Regions from separate parts of the Homo sapiens genome. Here region 1 is linked to region 2. The links come from fine-mapping of genetic effects on gene expression. A gene starts in region 2. The other region holds a variant in brackets. All regions are shown on one strand. Distances are from middle to middle. Region 1 has its middle 77 kb from the start of NDN. Region 2 holds the start of NDN (necdin, MAGE family member).

What was found. PIP is the estimated chance that this variant, and not a neighbour inherited with it, causes the effect. A credible set is the group of variants that fine-mapping cannot tell apart.
Region 1: its variant is the best candidate, but not a certain one, in a credible set for the expression of NDN in cerebral cortex (GTEx, PIP 0.71).

The regions. Positions count from the first base shown.
Region 1 is chr15:23,762,174-23,766,571 of GRCh38, reverse strand. No RefSeq gene overlaps it. Among named protein-coding and RNA genes, the nearest start is that of NDN, 77 kb to the right of the region's middle. The variant G/T (reference allele first, on the strand shown) is at 2,216.
Region 2 is chr15:23,685,273-23,689,670 of GRCh38, reverse strand. It overlaps NDN (necdin, MAGE family member), which reads left to right and starts at 2,366. Exons shown (of 1, transcript NM_002487.3): 1 at 2,366-4,271. The coding sequence starts at 2,454. The coding sequence ends at 3,419.

The sequences.
Region 1 (4,398 bases), 77 kb before region 2:
AATTTGCTCCATTTCCCAACAAGTTCCTCATCTCCATCTGAGACCACCTCAGCCGGATCTTATTGTTCATATCACTATCAGCATTTTGGGCAAAGCCATTCAACAAGTCTCTGTAGGTTCCAAACTTTCCCACATTTTCCTGTCTTCTTCTGAGCCCTCCAAACTGTTCCAACCTCTGCATGTTACCCAGTTCCAAAGTCACCTTCACATCTTTGAGTATCTTTTCAGCAACACCCCACTCTGCTGGTATCAACTTACTGTATTAGTCCGTCTTCATGTTGCTGATAAAGACATACCCAAGACTGGGAAGAAAAAGAGGTTTAAATGGACTTACAATTCCACATGGCTGGGGACGTCTCAGAATCATGGCAGGAGGTGAAAGGTACTTTTTTTTTTTTCTTTGAGATGGAGTCTCGCCCTGTCACCCAGGCTGGAGTGCAGTGGCGCCATCTCAGCTCACTGCAAGCTCCACCTCCTGGGTTCATGCCATTCTCCTGCCTCAGCCTCCTGAGTAGCTGGGACTACAGGTGCCTGCCACCACGCCCAGCTAATTTTTTGTATTTTTAGTAGAGACAGGGTTTCAATGTGTTAGCCAGGATGGTCTCGATCTCCTGACCTCATGATCCACCCGCCTCAGCCTCCCAAAGTGCTGGGATTACAGGCGTGAGCCACCGCGCCTGGCCTGAAAGGCACTTCTTACAAGGTGGCAGCAAGAGAAAATGAGGAAGAAGTAAAAGCAGAAACCCTTGATAAACCCATCAGATCTTGTGATACTTATTCAGTATCACGAGAACAGCATAGGAAAGACTGGCCCCCATGATTCAATTACCTCCCCCTGGATCCTTCCCACAACATGTGGGAATTCTGAAAGATACAATTCAAGTTGAGATTTCGGTGGGGCACAGCCAGATCGTATCACCCATTCTTGGGCATGCACCAAACTAACTTTAGGAGGAACTTCGTTCATAGTGTAACTTTGAAACAAAGATGATAGCAGCCCTTTCCTGAAACAAACCCCTTCCTTGCCTGGGGACCAGACTGTCTTTGTAAAACTAACAAATTAGGCACAAGATTAGAAATTATGGTTTAGGACATGCAGCCAGAGGCCACAAGAATCCTAACCTCCCCAGTTGCTTCTAGGGATAGCATTTTTATTATAAAACCTAAGACTGGTGCTCCAGAATCAGACCTTGCATTCTCATTCACCAGCTGGTGCCACCAAGATCAGCCATCTGGTTCAACCAGTTCTGCGATCCCACTCACAAACAGAAGACAGCAAAAAGAACCCAGTTCCACCCCCTATGATTTCCCCTCTGACCCGACCAATCTGACCCATTCCCTGCCCTCCACTGACCTGCCAAATTGTCCTTGAACAACCCCAGTCTCCGAATTCTGTGGCAGACTGATTTAAGTAATAAAACTCCTGTCTCCTGTTTAGCCAAGTCTGTGTGAACTAAACTCTTTCTGTATTGAAATTTTCCTGTCTTGATAAATCTGCTGTCTCTGTTGCAATTCCCCTCTATCTGGGCAGCGGGCAAGGAGAACCCATTGGGAGGTTACATTATTAAGTAAAATAAGAGTCAGTTGAACACAAACACTGTAATACCATGACAGTGGGTCTGATTAACTGAGACGACAACTAAGTGACTAAAGGGCAAGTAACACGGACAACAAGGAAACACTGGGCAAAGGGATGATTCAATTCCTGAGTGGGACAGACTGGGATGGCTTGAGATTTCATCATGCTACTTAGAATGGCATGCAATTTAAAACTTATGAATTATTTCTGGAAGTTTCCATTTAACGTATTTGGACTGTGGAAAGCAAGATGGTGGATAAAGGAGGACACTTGTAAATCAAGTTAAAGATAGGCAAAACATTGAACATACGCTTTCTCAAAAAATATGCAATTGGAATGAAAAGCATGAAAAGATGCTACACAGCATTTGCCATTAGGAAGTGCAAATTAAAACAAGTTACTACTACATTTATGGCAATGGCTAAGTTCCAAAAAAACGACCACACCATTTGATGAGAGGATGCAGAGCAACAGGGACTCTCATTCATTTTTGGCAGGAATGCAAAATGGCACAACCACTTCAGAAGACAATCTGGCAGCCTCTCACAAAGCTAAACATAGCATTACCATATGATCCAGCAATCACACTCCTAGGTATTTAGCCAACTGTTTTGAAAACTGAAGTCCACACACACA[G/T]TCTGCACATGAATGGTAACATATGCTTTGCTCCTACTCGAGAAAAACTGTCAGCAACCAAGATGTCCTTCAGTAGGTGAACGATGCATTGTGGTACATCCACATAATGGAATACTATTCAGCAATCAAATGAAATGGGCTATCAAGGCCTGCAAAAACATGGAGGAAGTTTAAATGTGTATTACTAAGAGAAAGACGCCACTCTGAAAACACTACGTACTGCACAATCCAATTTATATAACATTCTGGAAAAGGCAAAATGATAGAGACTCAATGGTTGCCAGGGGTTTGGGGACATGGAGGGTTGAATAGGTAAGTGCAGAGGATTTCTTTTGAGGGTAGTTAAAGGATCCTGTGTGATAATTGTCATAATGGATACGTGGCACTTTCCGTTTGTCAAAACCCATAGACCAATACCACACCACCCTTCCAACCCCACATTCACAGTCAACAGCAATGACTGCAGGAAAACCCGTCCTGCCCCGTGAGCATTTTGTGATTTGAGAGAGAGTAGTCCCAGAACAGAGGCAGTGGATTCATTCTCGAGTGCTCACACTCTCTACCCCAAAAGCTTCCATTCGGTTGCCACCACCATTATTTCCAAAAGGGAAACTTGCAGATTCCCCTTTATTGAGGCCCAACGTAAACATGTAGATTTCTGTAGTTGCTCAGCCTCCCACCACTGCTCCAGGCTGGCAAAGCTCGGGGGTCTCAGAGGGTTAACCAAGGGGAGGGTCCACAGGAAGCAGTGTTCAGATTTATCTGCACCCCACACCCCCAAGCCTTTAATTACGCCTTGTGAAACATCACTTTACCTTTTATTCCACATCATAATTCCCAAATGATCAGGGTATTTTATTTTACATCTAAATTTGGGATACTCATAGCCCATCTCAAAATCCCAGCCCGCCAGCTACGTCAATAGGAAAGCGCACGCAAGAGCTGCGCAATTCTGGTGAAGTGTTTACATCTGCAGCAATAAGTGAGAAATGGTTTATTAATAATCATGGCGTCATTGAGAGGGAGGGAGAAGCCGGGAGATAAAGACAAACGCACAACCTCCTCCGCTCTTCTCCAAACCACCCCACCACCAAGTTCCCAGTGCTGACGCAGGAGCACAAAGACCCTGCAATGCAGCAAGAGGGAGTGCGCATGCTCCCAGAGGACCCCTCCCAGGACGCAGACACAAGCCCCCCCACCCTCCCCTTTGGCTGCTATGGACACAAGTGACTCACGAAGAGATTTGTTCTCAAAAACACAGCATTTTTACTCATAGGCCTGAAATCAGCTTTTACTCAAGAATCCCAATTTCAAACATCCAAGCCTTACTACATTGAAAAATATAGCAAATGTCTAACAAAACTGTCCCTTCCAGCAGATTGTAATCAACTTTGTCATCAAAAGGACAAAAAATAAAAACCTGCACAGATATAGCACAGGGCAGACCGAAACTTCAGCTATTGTGGGCTCTCCTTGGATGATCATGTAGAATATCATCAGTACCCTGTACCAGCCCTGAGCTAGGCATGCTTCTGGGGTCAGAAAGTTAATGTGGGCAAAAGGCTTTCATTGAGCACAATTTGCATTTCTGACATTAGGGCCTCCTAAGGCTATGTTTTTTCTTTTCTTTATTTTTTATTTTATTTTTTGAGCTGTTATTGAAGTCACCCTTGACTCTATCAAGTTCTTAACTCACCTCTTGTCGAATTCCATCTGCCTTTTAATTCCACATCTTAAACCACAGATGATCAGGACTTCTCCATTCATCCACACCTGAATCGAAGGCCCCAATATTCCATCCCAAATGTCCACACCCACAGTTGTATTTGGATGGGGAGCAGATAGGCATAAAGGCAATTTATTTGGAGGCACTGAAGTCTGCCTTCATAGGAACAGAACAGAAAATGGCTGATGAACGGCTGTCAGCCCACAAGAGAGGATGTCAGGTTAGAAGGGTCGGCAGCGCATTAGCCCTCTGTTTCTCCCTGCTATTCCCACCCCTGCTTCTGCTGTGACCCTAAAAGAGACACAAACACAATGAAGAACTTGCCAGGCATCAAAGAAGAGAGTGCAAGGCCGGAAGCCCCCTCCTCTCAACGGGAGGGCTCACGGCTTGCCCCTCCCTCCCTCCTACACACTCCCCCTCCCAGCTGTTGGTCCACACATTTTTTTGCAGAAACAAA
Region 2 (4,398 bases):
GTGTGCTGCAGGAGAGGCCTTCTGCACAGTCTGCTTGATGCTGGCAACTTCACTAGAATGAAGTCCAGGTAGAAGTTATCCAGTCCTGCCCAGGCAGCAACTGAAGTCCAAGCAGCTCTCTGGCCAGAGCGCTGATACTCACTTCAGCAGAGCCACCTTTTATTGTTGTCATGCCCCAAGCCTGCACTTTAATTTCAAGAATCCATTACATCTCGGAGGGTGACATGTGAGAATGCAGTTTTAATGAGATCACAATGTTAAAAACCATAGCCTATGGCCAAAGCCAAGTTGAGATTTAAATAGTAGGTTCAAACACTTTTCTTATTAAAAAATATATCAAATGAACTAAATATTTTATTTCTTTATTTATTTAATGTTTGAGACAGTCTCGCTCTGTTGCCCAGGCTGGAGTGCAGTGGCATGCTCTCAGCTGACTGCAAACTCCACCTCCCAGGTTCAAGCGAGTCTCCTGCCTCAGCCTGCCAAGCAGTTGGGATTAAGGGTGCCCACCACCACACCCGGCTAATTTTTGTATTTTTAGTAGAGACGGGGTTTTGCCACGTTGGCCAGGCTGGTCTCGACCTCCTGACCTCAGGTGATCTGCCCGCCTCACCTTCCCAAAGTGCTGGGATTACAGGCGTGAGCCACCGCACCTGGCCTAAATATTTTATTTAAATAGTTAGAAAATAATACATACCCAAACAAAATAAAGAATAATATTGATGGAGATTTAAATGCAATAAATGAGGATTATATTTATGAAGCATGGGGGTAATAAGTCTGTTCAAGAGACATTCTTAAAAACAATGAATATAATTAGCATATTTCTGTAAGATGTTCCCAAGAAAATGGTAGATATCTATAAATAGAAGAAGGAGAAAAAGGAGAAGTAGATGGAGAGGAGAAGGAGGAGGTGGAGGAGGGTGAGGAGGAGGAGAAAAGTGTTGAAATAATTCCAACTAAGACTGATATCTAGGAATTACCCTGGTGAAGTGGGAAGCTTAAGAGTCCTGTTGGAGGGACTGGTGTGGTAATGGCTCTGCCAAAAGTGTTATGTGCGTGCAAACCCAAAGAGAGAAAGCACAGAAAACCTTTCAACATCAACCTGCTTGAGGAAAAATAAAGTGGGAAAAGATACATACTCACAGTGAGGACTCTAGACATGTCAAGACAATTTTTAAATATGCTTTTGGCTTCGAGTGGCAATAACTAGATTCAAGACAGCATATTTAAGAAGCTGCTGATGAGAAGAAACCCGGGAAGAGCTGAAGGACCACATCAGCCCAGACCAAGGATGCTGAAGCAGCATTAAGGTCCCTGGTTTCAGATGCTCAGGCAATGACCCTTTTTTTCATGGAGAGCCTGTAGGAGTGACAGTTTTGTCTTTGCCCACTGGGAATCTGTTTTCCATACCTGGAAAACAGGGTTACCTATGTTTCCCCTGCTACCCTTTGGTCATCTCAGAGACACTACCAGATATTACCCATGGGACCTATTTTTTTTTTAAATCTCAGGAAAGACTTGGGTGTGGCTTCCAACGTGGAGGACTCAGTAGCTTCAGAGAGGGTCCTGAGAGAAGGTGAATTGAAGAATGAGGGTGCTGGGCAGAGGGAAAAGACATTATCATACAAGTTTGTGCTAAAAGATATAGCAATCCTTCTGCTATGGACTAAGTATGGAAAAAAATAAAATGGAATCAAAGTTACCCAAAGGAAGTGTAAAACCCAAATTTATGCCCGTTAAAGCATTAATGATGCTCTAAGTCCACTGCCTACTTAAAAAGTTCATAGTTCACATGGGTTGATAGGAAATTACGTTAACGACACACTGCATTTCCCCTTTTCTTATAGCCTATCTGATTTGGTAGGGAGTCGATCATTTTTTATTGGAATTTCTCAGGATTCCAACCTCAGACATCCACTTTACAGTTTACACATTTTCTTGGACAAGCCCGACTGTTCCTCTCACTGGTTCGCATAAAGCTCATGTTTACAAAGCCGCCCAGACCTTTCTCTGGGACTCTCATATTTAACTTAATTCTGGATATACCCAGGTAAGCGTTTCCCAAGAAACTTGACCCCAACATCCCAAAAACTTAAGGTATCTTTCCCTTAAACTGGCCCCTTCTCCAGTACGCATCCATCTCACTTCTCTCCTGCCCTAGATCTTCTCAGCCCAAACAGGAAACCCCGGGATCGCTCTCCCAGCAGGTGAAGCCTCGCCATGGACCCTCCCCGTCGGGGCCCCGCGCTGCCCCGCCCGCCCCCAGCCGCTGGCCAAGGCCGCGGTCGCGCAGGCGCAGTGCCGCGTCCCGCCGCCGCCCCGCCCTGCCCGTCGCTGCGGAAGGCGCCGCGCGCAGCAACGCGCACTTCCTCTCCAGGAATCCGCGGAGGGAGCGCAGGCTCGAAGAGCTCCTGGACGCAGAGGCCCTGCCCTTGCCAGACGGCGCAGACATGTCAGAACAAAGTAAGGATCTGAGCGACCCTAACTTTGCAGCCGAGGCCCCCAACTCCGAGGTGCACAGCAGCCCTGGGGTTTCGGAGGGGGTTCCTCCGTCCGCGACCCTGGCAGAGCCGCAGAGCCCTCCTCTAGGCCCGACGGCCGCTCCGCAGGCCGCGCCGCCTCCCCAGGCCCCGAACGACGAGGGCGACCCGAAGGCCCTGCAGCAGGCTGCGGAGGAGGGCCGCGCCCACCAGGCCCCGAGCGCGGCCCAGCCGGGCCCGGCACCGCCAGCCCCGGCGCAGCTGGTGCAGAAGGCGCACGAGCTCATGTGGTACGTGCTGGTCAAGGACCAGAAGAAGATGATCATCTGGTTTCCAGACATGGTGAAAGATGTCATCGGCAGCTACAAGAAGTGGTGCAGGAGCATCCTCCGGCGCACCAGCCTCATCCTCGCCCGGGTGTTCGGGCTGCACCTGAGGCTAACCAGCCTGCACACCATGGAGTTTGCGCTGGTCAAAGCGCTGGAGCCCGAGGAGCTGGACAGGGTGGCGCTGAGCAACCGCATGCCCATGACAGGCCTCCTGCTCATGATCCTGAGCCTCATCTACGTGAAGGGCCGCGGCGCCAGAGAGAGCGCCGTCTGGAACGTGCTGCGCATCCTGGGGCTGCGGCCCTGGAAGAAGCACTCCACCTTCGGGGACGTGCGGAAGCTCATCACTGAGGAGTTCGTCCAAATGAATTACCTGAAGTACCAGCGCGTCCCATACGTGGAGCCGCCCGAATACGAGTTCTTTTGGGGCTCCCGGGCCAGCCGCGAAATCACCAAGATGCAAATCATGGAGTTCCTGGCCAGGGTCTTTAAGAAAGACCCCCAGGCCTGGCCCTCCCGATACAGAGAAGCTCTGGAGGAGGCCAGAGCTCTGCGGGAGGCTAATCCCACTGCCCACTACCCTCGCAGCAGTGTCTCTGAGGACTAGCAAAGTCTGGAGGCAGATGAATGGTTTCTGACCCTCACCAGGGCTGTGGAAGGGTGGGGGTGGGTCATTATAGTATTCAGGATTTACAGTGCAGTATTCACGTGTAACTTTTAAGTTTTCAGTACAGTGCTTTTATACCTTTAATGCAATGTTGTATTCATTTGGGTACTATTGTGTAGTATTTAGGATGTATGCATGTTTGTTTATATGTAAGCTTGGTTGGTGCTTTCGCTTTTGTGCTACCTTTCTTGGATTTTTGTACCAGAGATGTGCTAAACTGATGAAATACATTGAGAAAGTTTCCATCTTATTCTTTTATATGGGACTGATGATGTGTGTTGGGGTAGACTGCTCCTGCAGAGTTTGGAAGAAGTCACCAGCAAAGCCGGCCTAACCAAGAAAAGTCAAGGCCCTTCATGACCTTGCTGGGCACAGAAAACACCCTCGTGGAGTACACTAATTTGAACTGGACTGGTCTCAGTGTGAGCACTTGGCACACTTTACTAAACACATATACAACCCCACCGTGAGTCAACTTTAAAGTAAACATTAAAGATTCTTGTGATACAATCATTTTTGGAAAAGTGTACTTTATCATTTTAACAAAGCAGTATGGTTGGGAATGAGACAATTCTCTATTTTACAGTGTATACAGATACAACTATTTCCCCTAATAGGGTGGGAAAAATCGCTACTCATGATTACTCCTAAATTTGTGAAGTTTATAGTTCTATTGTCTTTAAATGTAACTCATGTTTATTTCAAAAACATTCACAAATATAGAAAAGTATACAAAACAAAACAGTAAGATTGTCTGTAATCACATCATATGGGAATAAAAAACAAAAATAATTTCCTTCCCTTAAGTTTCTACATTTTATCAAAATTAATAGATGTCTTGTGACATCTATTAATATACATATAACATATTTATAATATAAAAGAGTGAGACATTGTGCTAAGCCCTAACATGTATTTT